Regions from separate parts of the Homo sapiens genome. Here region 2 is linked to region 1. Evidence: fine-mapped expression QTL. Tissue or cell type: lymphoblastoid cells. Region 1 holds a variant in brackets; the other region holds the start of a gene. All regions are shown on one strand. Distances are between the middles of the regions.

What was found. PIP is the estimated chance that this variant, and not a neighbour inherited with it, causes the effect.
Region 2: KLHDC7B-DT starts here. The variant in region 1 is fine-mapped to the expression of KLHDC7B-DT in lymphoblastoid cells (GEUVADIS, PIP 0.95).

What each region holds. Positions count from the first base shown.
Region 1 is chr22:50,799,210-50,804,396 of GRCh38, forward strand. It overlaps the pseudogene RPL23AP82. Among named protein-coding and RNA genes, the nearest start is that of RABL2B, 18 kb to the left of the region's middle. The variant T/C (reference allele first, on the strand shown) is at 1,955.
Region 2 is chr22:50,546,714-50,551,819 of GRCh38, forward strand. It overlaps KLHDC7B-DT (KLHDC7B divergent transcript), which reads right to left and starts at 2,234. Exons shown (of 4, transcript NR_199716.1): 1 at 2,183-2,234. It overlaps KLHDC7B (kelch domain containing 7B), which reads left to right. Exons shown (of 1, transcript NM_138433.5): 1 at 1-4,310. The coding sequence ends at 3,238. SYCE3 (synaptonemal complex central element protein 3) reads right to left here. Exons shown (of 3, transcript NM_001123225.3): 3 at 4,399-4,689. The coding sequence ends at 4,532. RefSeq lists silencers at 1,712-2,141, 2,222-2,381.

The sequences.
Region 1 (5,187 bases):
AGAATCAAATCTATAAGCTTTAAGATTTTACGTTTCTAGTAAGTATAATATTAGCTTATTTGACTAGAACTCAAGCAGAATAGGAATTTATGCTTGTTTTATATTCAATAATGATAATTTTGAAGATATAGTTGTTTTATTACACCAAAAATACTATATTAATCTTATTTAACTAAGTTTTATCCAAATCATGTTAACTTAAGAAACATTTGATCAGTTCCTATATTTCTAGGAGTTTGGTGAATATTTATTTATAAATGCTTATTTTTTTCCAAGCCAAGTTAGAATAGAGCACTTTTAGAGGATTTCATAAATGAATTTTGCAATGCTCTCTGGAGTTAAGAAAATATCACATATACATAACATACATTAATAGATACACAAACACAAATAGAGATTTCATAGCTTTCATCCTGAAATTTCAGCCATGAATCAGGCATAAATATTCTGATGGTTAATTTCAGACATCTACTTGATCGGATTGAGAGACACGCATAGCTGGTCAAACACGATTTCAGCCATGAATCAGGCATAAATATTCTGATGGTTAATTTTAGACATCTACTTGACTGGATTAAGAGACACACATAGCTGGTCAAACATGATTTCTGACATGAATCAGGCATAAATATTCTGACGGTTAATTTTAGACATCTACTTGACTGGATTAAGAGACACACATAGCTGGTCAAACATGATTTCAGCCATGAATCAGCCATAAATATTCTGACGGTTAATTTTAGACATCTACTTGATCGGATTGAGAGACACACATAGCTGGTCAAACACGATTTCAGCCATGAATCAGGCATAAATATTCTGATGGTTAATTTTAGACATCTACTTGAGTGGATTGAGAGACACACATAGCTGGTCAAACACAATTTCAGCCATGAATCAGGCATAAATATTCTGATGGTTAATTTTAGACATCTACTTGAGTGGATTGAGAGACACACATAGCTGGTCAAACAATTTCAGCCATGAATCAGGCATAAATATTCTGACGGTTAATTTTAGACATCTACTTGAGTGGATTGAGAGACACACATAGCTGGTCAAACACGATTTCAGCCATGAATCAGGCATAAATATTCTGACGGTTAATTTTAGACATCAACTTGACTGGATTAAGGGACACACATAGCTGGTCAAACACGATTTCAGCCATGAATCAGGCATAAATATTCTGACGGTTAATCGTAGACGTCTACTTGACTGGATTGAGAGACACACATAGCTGGTCAAACACGATTTCAGCCATGAATCAGGCATAAATATTCTGATGGTTAATCGTAGACATCTACTTAACTGGATTGAGAGACACACATAGCTGGTCAAACACGATTTCAGCCATGAATCAGGCATAAATATTCTGATGGTTAATCGTAGACATCTACTTGACTGGATTGAGAGACACACATAGCTGGTCAAACACGATTTCAGCCATGAATCAGGCATAAATATTCTGATGGTTAATCGTAGACATCTACTTGACTGGATTGAGAGACACACATAGCTGGTCAAACACGATTTCAGCCATGAATCAGGCATAAATATTCTGATGGTTAATCGTAGACATCTACTTGACTGGATTGAGAGACACACATAGCTGGTCAAACACGATTTCAGCCATGAATCAGGCATAAATATTCTGATGGTTAATCGTAGACGTCTACTTGACTGGATTGAGAGACACACACAGCTGGTCAAACACGATTTCTGGGCATATCTATGAGGGTGTTTCTGGAAGACACTGAGATAACCATGACCCAATGTGGATGGGCACTGATATGGTTTGGCTGTGTCCCCACCCAGATCTCATCTTGAATTGTAGTTCCTGTAATACCTACATGTCGTGGGAGGGACCCAATGGGAGGTGACTGAATCATGGTGGTGGTTACCGCCATGCTGTTCTCATGACAGTGAGTGAGTTCTCATGATCTGATGGTTT[T/C]ATAAGGGGCTTTTCCCCTTTGGGTCAGCACTTCTTGTTGCTGCCATGTGAAGAGGGACAGCTTTGCTTCCCCTTCTGCCATGATTGTGAGGCCCCTGCAGCCATGTGGAACTGTCAGCCCATTAAACCCCTTTGTTCTTTATAAATTGCTCAGACTCAGGTATTTCTTCATAGCTGTATAAAAATGGATGAATACAGGCAGCATCCAATTGGTTGAGAGCCCAGATAGAATAACAAGGAAGAGGAAAGGTGAATTATCTCCTTCTGAAATGGAAACATCCTTCTTCTCCTGCCCTTGACATCAGAACTTCAGGGTCTCAGACCTTTGGCCTCACAATCAGAGTTACACCATTGGCTTCCCCGATTCTGAGTCCTTTGTATCTGGAGTGAGCCATGCTACCAGCTTTCCTGGTTCTCCAACTTGGAGACAGGCTATTGTGGAACTTCTCAGCCTCCATAATTATGTGAACCAGTTCCCCTAATGAATCTTCTGTCATCTGTCTACATATATCCTATTGATTCTGCCTTTCTGGAGACCCCTGACTAATGTGATTACAATAACTACACAATTCACTAGTTTATATAGAAGACTTGGTTTTTGTCTTTGCCCCATTTTATATTTGTATTATAACTATGTATCTGGAAAATGGAACAAGTTTTTTCTTCTTCATATGAGGGCTAAGGCTTTTTTCTCACCAATATTTTTGGAGATTTTAAAGATTTTCTTTTTTTTTGACATAGAATCTTATGGAGGCTGAGAAATAATTTTTTTTCTATTTTATTCTTCAGCCCCAGGTGTTTGCTTTTGCAGATTCTTGAGCACATTGAGAGCCTCCAAGGCATGGAGTGGGGTGCCTGAAGTTTCAGTGATTATAGGGAGTTGAGAGACTCAACTGGGAAAGGAAAGGTCTAAAAGGAGGCAATTTGGAAGATAAAAATTTTCTCAAAGGAGCCATTAAAGTTGTAAATAATTCTTAGTAAAGTCATGCAAACAGGAAAAGAAGTAGAATTAGTTCCATATTGGTGGAACACATAGTCAGCAGAGGTTTGAGAAGGGAGAATTTAGTGAAGTGAGAAGTTCCCATGAAAGCAGCAAGATCAAGATCACAGACACCTTGAAACAAAAAGCCAGGAATAACTTCCAACCCAAGAGGAGAACAGAGAGGCCTCAAAACCAAAGGTAGGATAAGAAACTTGTAGCCCAAGAGTTATCTTCCAGACAAAGAAGCCTGAGATTCCAACGCAGCTTCAGAGAGTGCTCACTCAAAATGTTACTGAAACTGTAGGCTTTTTAATGAGTTAGCCATGCCTGCAAAAGGCATTCCCTAAGGTGGCACAGAAGACGGAGCCCCCATATCCAAAGATAGCCAAGGAGAAAGAAAGACCCCTGTTGCCAGAGCCAGTGGGCAAAGGCAACAGAAAAGGAGACAAGGGTCCTAATGGGATGAGATCCTTTCGGATTTAGGCTTTTATACAAACTCCTGAGAACTGGCAGGTTGACAGCCATAAATGGGGTACCAAACTTTCTACTCATTGGATTACAAGTTCTCAGGCATCCAGAATGATGAACAAAATGACAATTTCTAGGGCTTCTGTGGGAGAGTATGGAAAGGTCTTTTTGAACCTTTTAATGCTGTGAACGGAAGAATGATGAGGTTCATAAATTTGGAAAGGAGACATTTCTTCATTTTTATGCTTATTTTTATTTTTTTTGAGACAGAGTTTCACTCTTGTTGCCCAGGCTGGAGTGCAATGGCGTGATCTTGGTTCACTGCAACCTCCACCTCCTGGGTTCAAGCGATTCTCCTGCCTCAGCCTCCTGATTAGCTGGGATTACAGATGCCCACCACCACACCTGGCTAATTTTTTGCAGTTTTGGTAGAGACAGGATTTCATCATGTTGGCCAGGCTGGTCTGAAACTCCTGACCTCAGGTGATCCACCCACCTCGGCCTCCCAAAGTGCTGGGATTACAGGCATGAGCCACCCACCCAGTGAGAGATTTATTTTCTATAAAGGGTTGTAGCCTGCAGGGTTGTCCTTCTGACAGGCTGGGAAGCATAGCCTCCAGCCAGAAGCCAGAAACAGATGCTTCAAGGAGGAGGTAAAGGAAATAGCAACTTATGCTGAGTGGAATGGCCAAATAGATTTATTTAATAAGCTCTAGGAGGAGTCATGAATATTTATGGAAGGAGAAATGCATGCACGCACAATTGAGTTTCTTGCTTCTTCATGGGTCCCATGTACAAAAAATGGCAGTGTTAGCATGATCCCAGGGTGGAGTTTTCAGCCCTCTGACATTAAAAGGTGAAGCAGAGGACATGAAAACTCGCTCTGTGCATCCTCTGTACGCTGGCCAGAACCTCTCCATCGTGGGTGGTCTCTTATCAGGCAAGAAAGGAGAGGTTGATATCAGTGGTGGAGGCTTTGAAAGGGCTGGTTTCTGTTAAATCCTTAGGGAAGAAAGCCTCATCATGGTTAGCAAAGGAGGGGGTATAACGATGTGTATCTTAACCCCATCATCCCATCCTAGCAAAGCTGAGAACTCAGTTTTGAAAGTTACTCTGGGGTCCCCTCAGCCAAGAGTGGGTCTGTTCAGTCAGTTGGGAGCTTAGAATTTAATTTTCATTTATCAATGCTAATGGGAAAGAGTACGCTGTCTTCATGGCAGCTGAATTTGCAAGAAACTCCTTGGATGGGGTTAATGGCAGCTGTATTTTTCTGGGAGCTGTGCTTTAATTGGATAAAGTAAGTTCTGGTAAGATTTCTTCATCTTCAGTATCTCAAATGTTTTCATTTAAATAATCTTTATAACAACTTTTGATGTCTGAGTGGATTCCCACACAGTCATCTATTGTAAGACTTTCTGATTCCTTTTTTTTCCTTTGGTCATTATGAATAGGGCTTCTGTAAATAACTGCATGGTAGCTTTTGATGGGAAATAACATCAAAGTAGTTGTCAAAATACCTAGGAATGTTATTTTTGGATTGTAAGGTGAGACTTGTTTAGCTTTGGAAAAAAATGACCAACTTGTAATAGGGGAGGAAAAATAATTTTCTGTTTTTGGAATTCTTAGATGGAACGCTCTGTAAAAACTGACAGATTAAAATGAGAAAAAGAGAAAAGTTTAAAAACATGTATATCTTATGGTTACATGGGAGATACTCAGGGAAAAATGAGTAAATCTCCAACAGGTGGCTTTCAATTCAAGCATAAATACTATCTTCAACTTA
Region 2 (5,106 bases), 250 kb before region 1:
GCCAGGCACTGCCCTCCTGGGCAGGAGCGAAGCAGGGGGGATGTCCGCCCCCCTCCTGATCCACTTCACTCCTCGGAGCCCTGGCAGCGAAGCGGAGGCGGAGACAGGTGGTGTCAGGGCGTCCTCTCGCCAGGCCGCAGGCCCCGCGGGGCAACAGGACACTGGCCCCTGGCAGGCGGGCGCGGGGCCCTCGGGCTCGATGGGGAGAGGCCGGGGCCGGCGGCGGCGGATGGACGCTGGCTCGGGAGACAGAGCCCGCCGCCCCCGGAAACTGGACCCGCTCCGCCTGGGCGCCGCGGGGAGCGTGTGGGACGCGGTGGACGGGGCCGCCGCCCTGGACGCCCACGCGCGCGGCCTCCCCACAGGACCCCCACTCGCCCAGGAGCCCGCACTCCCGGCGCTGCCCGCTCCCCGCGCCCTGCAGCCTGGGTCTCAGACGGAAGGCTCTGGGGCCAAGGGTGGCTGGAGCAGGGAGGCCTCGGGGGTCCCTGCCCCCGGAGGAGGCTGGCCCTGGGTCAGCAGGGAGGTCCCGGGCACCCGGAGCTTTGGCCCAGCCCCAGACTCCACGCGCCCCTGGCTAGAGAGTCCGCCTCAAGGTCGCCCACTCTCGTCCCAAGGGCCGGGTGCCACAGGGGCCTACGATGCCGGCGAGGCCGGGGCTGACAGCTCCCGAGATAACAGTCCTGCCGCTGACCTGGGGCCCACCCGGCCCCCGGAGCAAGCAAAGCCGGCTGCAGCCGGCCACAGCCGCGCGCCCTCCCGGAGCCGTGAGCCTCGCCCGCGCTCCGCCTCCCCGCCCGCAGCTCCCGGCCCGGGGTTCCCACCTGAAGCCCTGACTCTCCCCTCTCCTTCAGACTTTTTGCCCCTGGAGGTTACCCAGGATCCTTCCGTGGGCGAAAATCTCAGAGCGGCGCCAGCCCCAAGTTCAGCCTCAGCCCAAGTCTTAACTTCAGCTCCAGCCTCAGTCCTAGCCCCAGCCCTGGCTTCATCCCCCAGCTCAGCACCAACCTCAGCCACCACCTCAACCTCATCCCCCACCTCAGCCCCAGCCCCAGCTCCAACCTCAGCTCCAACTTCAACCCCAGCCCCAGCCCCAAGTCCAGCTGCAGCCGCAACTCCAGCCCCAGCCCCAGTCCCAGTCCCAACCCTCACACCCCCATCCCCAGCCCTAACCCCAGTCCCAACCCCAGCCCTAAGCCCAGCTCCAACTCCAGCCCTAACCCCAGCCGCATCCCCAGCCCTAACCCCAGTCCCAACCCCAGCCCTAAGCCCAGCTCCAACTCCAGCCCCAACCCCAGCCGCATCCCCTGCCCCAGCCCCCACCTCAGCCCCAACCCCAACCCCAGCCGCATCCCCTGCCCCAGCTGACGGGTCAAAGCCTCAGGAGAGTGTGGCTCTCCCCAGGCGCTACCAGGAGGGGCAGGTCTCAGCCAGCTGGGGAAACCTTATTGCCATGGTTCTTAGAAGCCACCCCTTCCCCAGGCAAGACAGGCCCCAAGGGAGTGTCCCGAGGGCGGTTCCCGGGAGCCCCGTGGGTCCCAGCACTTCCACACACTCTGAGGACAGACACGGCCCCTCTTCTTCAGTGGGGACAGTCATAGGGACAGGTACAGGGGGCCTGGTTGAGGCTGGAGGTCAGCCACAGCCAAGAAGCTCCGAGACCAACGGATCGCCCAGCCCAGACCCTCCCCCAGGCCTAAGAGGAGAGGGAACCAGGGAGAAAAGTCTAGACCCGCTGCCCCAAGCCGCGATGCCCAGGGGCCCCGCACAGCCCCCCGCGCAGAGGCCGCCTGGCCCCGCGGCCTCCTCCTCTGCGAGGCGCTCACAGCCGGTACCCCAGCTACGGAAACGCAGCAGGTGCGAAATCGCCCCGAGCTCGGAGCAGGAGGTCAGGCCGGCCGCCTCGGGGGACCCTCAAGGGGAGGCGCCGGGGGAGGGGGGCAGCCCTGCCGGCCGCAGCGGGGCGCTCACGGAAAAGCAGGAGGAGGCCCGGAAGCTCATGGTGTTTCTGCAGAGGCCCGGGGGTTGGGGGGTGGTGGAGGGGCCCCGGAAGCCCAGCTCCCGGGCCCTGGAGCCCGCCACGGCGGCAGCCCTGCGGCGGCGGCTGGACCTGGGCAGTTGCCTGGACGTGCTGGCCTTTGCCCAGCAGCACGGAGAGCCCGGCCTGGCGCAGGAGACCTACGCGCTGATGAGCGACAACCTGCTGCGAGTGCTGGGAGACCCGTGCCTCTACCGCCGGCTGAGCGCGGCCGACCGCGAGCGCATCCTCAGCCTGCGGACCGGCCGGGGCCGGGCGGTGCTGGGCGTCCTCGTACTGCCCAGCCTCTACCAGGGGGGCCGCTCAGGGCTCCCCAGGGGCCCTCGTGGCGAGGAGCCTCCTGCGGCGGCCCCTGTGTCCCTGCCTCTACCTGCGCACCTGCATGTGTTCAACCCCCGGGAGAACACCTGGCGGCCCCTGACCCAGGTGCCCGAGGAGGCCCCGCTTCGGGGCTGCGGTCTCTGCACCATGCACAACTACCTGTTTCTGGCGGGGGGCATCCGTGGCTCCGGTGCCAAGGCCGTCTGCTCCAACGAGGTCTTCTGCTACAACCCTCTGACCAACATCTGGAGCCAGGTTCGGCCCATGCAGCAGGCCCGAGCCCAGCTCAAGCTGGTGGCCCTGGACGGGCTGCTCTATGCCATCGGTGGCGAATGCCTGTACAGCATGGAGTGCTACGACCCGCGAACAGACGCCTGGACCCCACGCGCGCCACTCCCCGCAGGCACCTTCCCTGTGGCCCACGAGGCTGTGGCCTGCCGTGGGGACATCTACGTCACCGGGGGTCACCTCTTCTACCGCCTGCTCAGGTACAGCCCCGTGAAGGATGCTTGGGACGAGTGCCCATACAGTGCCAGCCACCGGCGTTCCAGCGACATCGTGGCACTGGGGGGCTTCCTGTACCGCTTCGACCTGCTGCGGGGCGTGGGCGCCGCCGTGATGCGCTACAACACAGTGACCGGCTCCTGGAGCAGGGCTGCCTCCCTGCCCCTGCCCGCCCCCGCCCCACTGCACTGCACCACCCTGGGCAACACCATTTACTGCCTCAACCCCCAGGTCACTGCCACCTTCACGGTCTCTGGGGGGACTGCCCAGTTCCAGGCCAAGGAGCTGCAGCCCTTCCCCTTGGGGAGCACCGGGGTCCTCAGTCCATTCATCCTGACTCTGCCCCCTGAGGACCGGCTGCAGACCTCACTCTGAGTGGCAGGCAGAGAACCAAAGCTGCTTCGCTGCTCTCCAGGGAGACCCTCCTGGGATGGGCCTGAGAGGCCGGGGCTCAGGGAAGGGGCTGGGATCGGAACTTCCTGCTCTTGTTTCTGGACAACTTTCCCCTTCTGCTTTAAAGGTTGTCGATTATTTTGAAGCCCAGACTCCCTCAGCCTCTTTCTGCCCCTCACTCCACACCCAGACTGTTTCCTGACTCAATTCCGTACCTACTTACAGACCCTCTCAGCTTGCTGACACCCCCCTGTCTGTGGGACTCCCTATTCCCTAGAGCCAGGGACTGATGCGTCTCCACAGACAAGGACTTGGCTCGCTGGAGCTCTGCTGAGCCGAGAGAGGAGGGGGTAGAAAACATTCACACTTCCTATGCTCTGTCAGCAGGACAGGGAGCAAAAACGTCCCCAGGCAACGCCCTCGCCTCTGGGACTTTCTGCCTGTCCTAAGGCCTCCCCAGGTACCAACCCCGTAGCTATCTGGGTCTGTTTGGCACTGTGGATTCTCAAGGGCCTAGAACCCTTGCCTCTGAAACTGGTCCGCTGGTGCAGCCCTGCTGTCTGCAGCTCCTGCCCATACCCCCAGCCCACACCAGGCCAGGCCCACTCCGGGCTCACCACCCTCTGCAGCCTTGTGGGGCTCTCCCAGCCCCTCCAGAAGCCCACCCCACTTCTCGCCAACCCCCGATCTCTAAATGAGGCCTGAGCGTCACCCTAGTTCTGCCCCTTTTTAGCTGTGTAGACTTGGACGAGACATTTGACTTCCCTTTCTCCTTGTCTATAAAATGTGGACAGTGGACGTCTGTCACCCAAGAGAGTTGTGGGAGACAAGATCACAGCTATGAGCACCTCGCACGGTGTCCAGGATGCACAGCACAATCCATGATGCGTTTTCTCCCCTTACGCACTTTGAAACCCATGCTAGAAAAGTGAATACATCTGACTGTGCTCCACTCCAACCTCCAGCCTGGATGTCCCTGTCTGGGCCCTTTTTCTGTTTTTTATTCTATGTTCAGCACCACTGGCACCAAATACATTTTAATTCACCGAAAGCACCTGCAGCTTGCACTTGTTGTGTTTTGTTCACAAGGTTTGATATGCAGCTGGGTGGATCATGGCACAGGAGAGAAGAGGTCCTCGGGCTGTGCTTAAAAATAAGTTTATTAAGAAACAAGTACAGTGCATACAGCTATTCATGTGGGTGCCAGCTCCATCCCCCAGTGACCTCTTCATACGGGCAGAGGGTGGCATGGCAGCTGTGGTGGGCCAGTGGGGCCTACAGCCTTTGCTTGGTCTCATGCAGCAGCTCTTGCCAGTTCTTCTCCATCTCCTCCTTGCAGTTGACGAAGGCATCCTCCAGCCGACGCATGGACTCGGCCAGCGTAGGGTTGGTGCGCATCACCACCATGTCATAGGCCATCCAGGTCGCCTGCACTGCAACAAGCAGACAGGACTGGTCAGGCCACAGGGAGGGGCTGCAGCTCTGGGGTGCCCCAGAAGGGTCAGATGCCTCCAGCTGGGCTCAGCATCTGGAGGCCCAGATCCTGCTGAGGCACCCAATTACTCTAGGGAGAGACAGCTGGTAGGCTACTTGTTACAGGCTCATAAAAACTCCCTACAAACATCCATAGTGACGCTTCCTAGTCTCATGCAAGGCATAACTTCTGGATACACCAGACATGATGTAAAAAACTAGAGGCTGGTCTGATACGAAATGTGAGGAGAATTAGAGCAAACCGCAGCTCCTTACCTACAAGCAGTTCACAGCCAATGGCTGCAGGTGACCCCTAAGGAGTCATCCACCCAAGCTCACACACTCAGGTAGAGTTGATTGTTTCCAGTCCTGCAAGA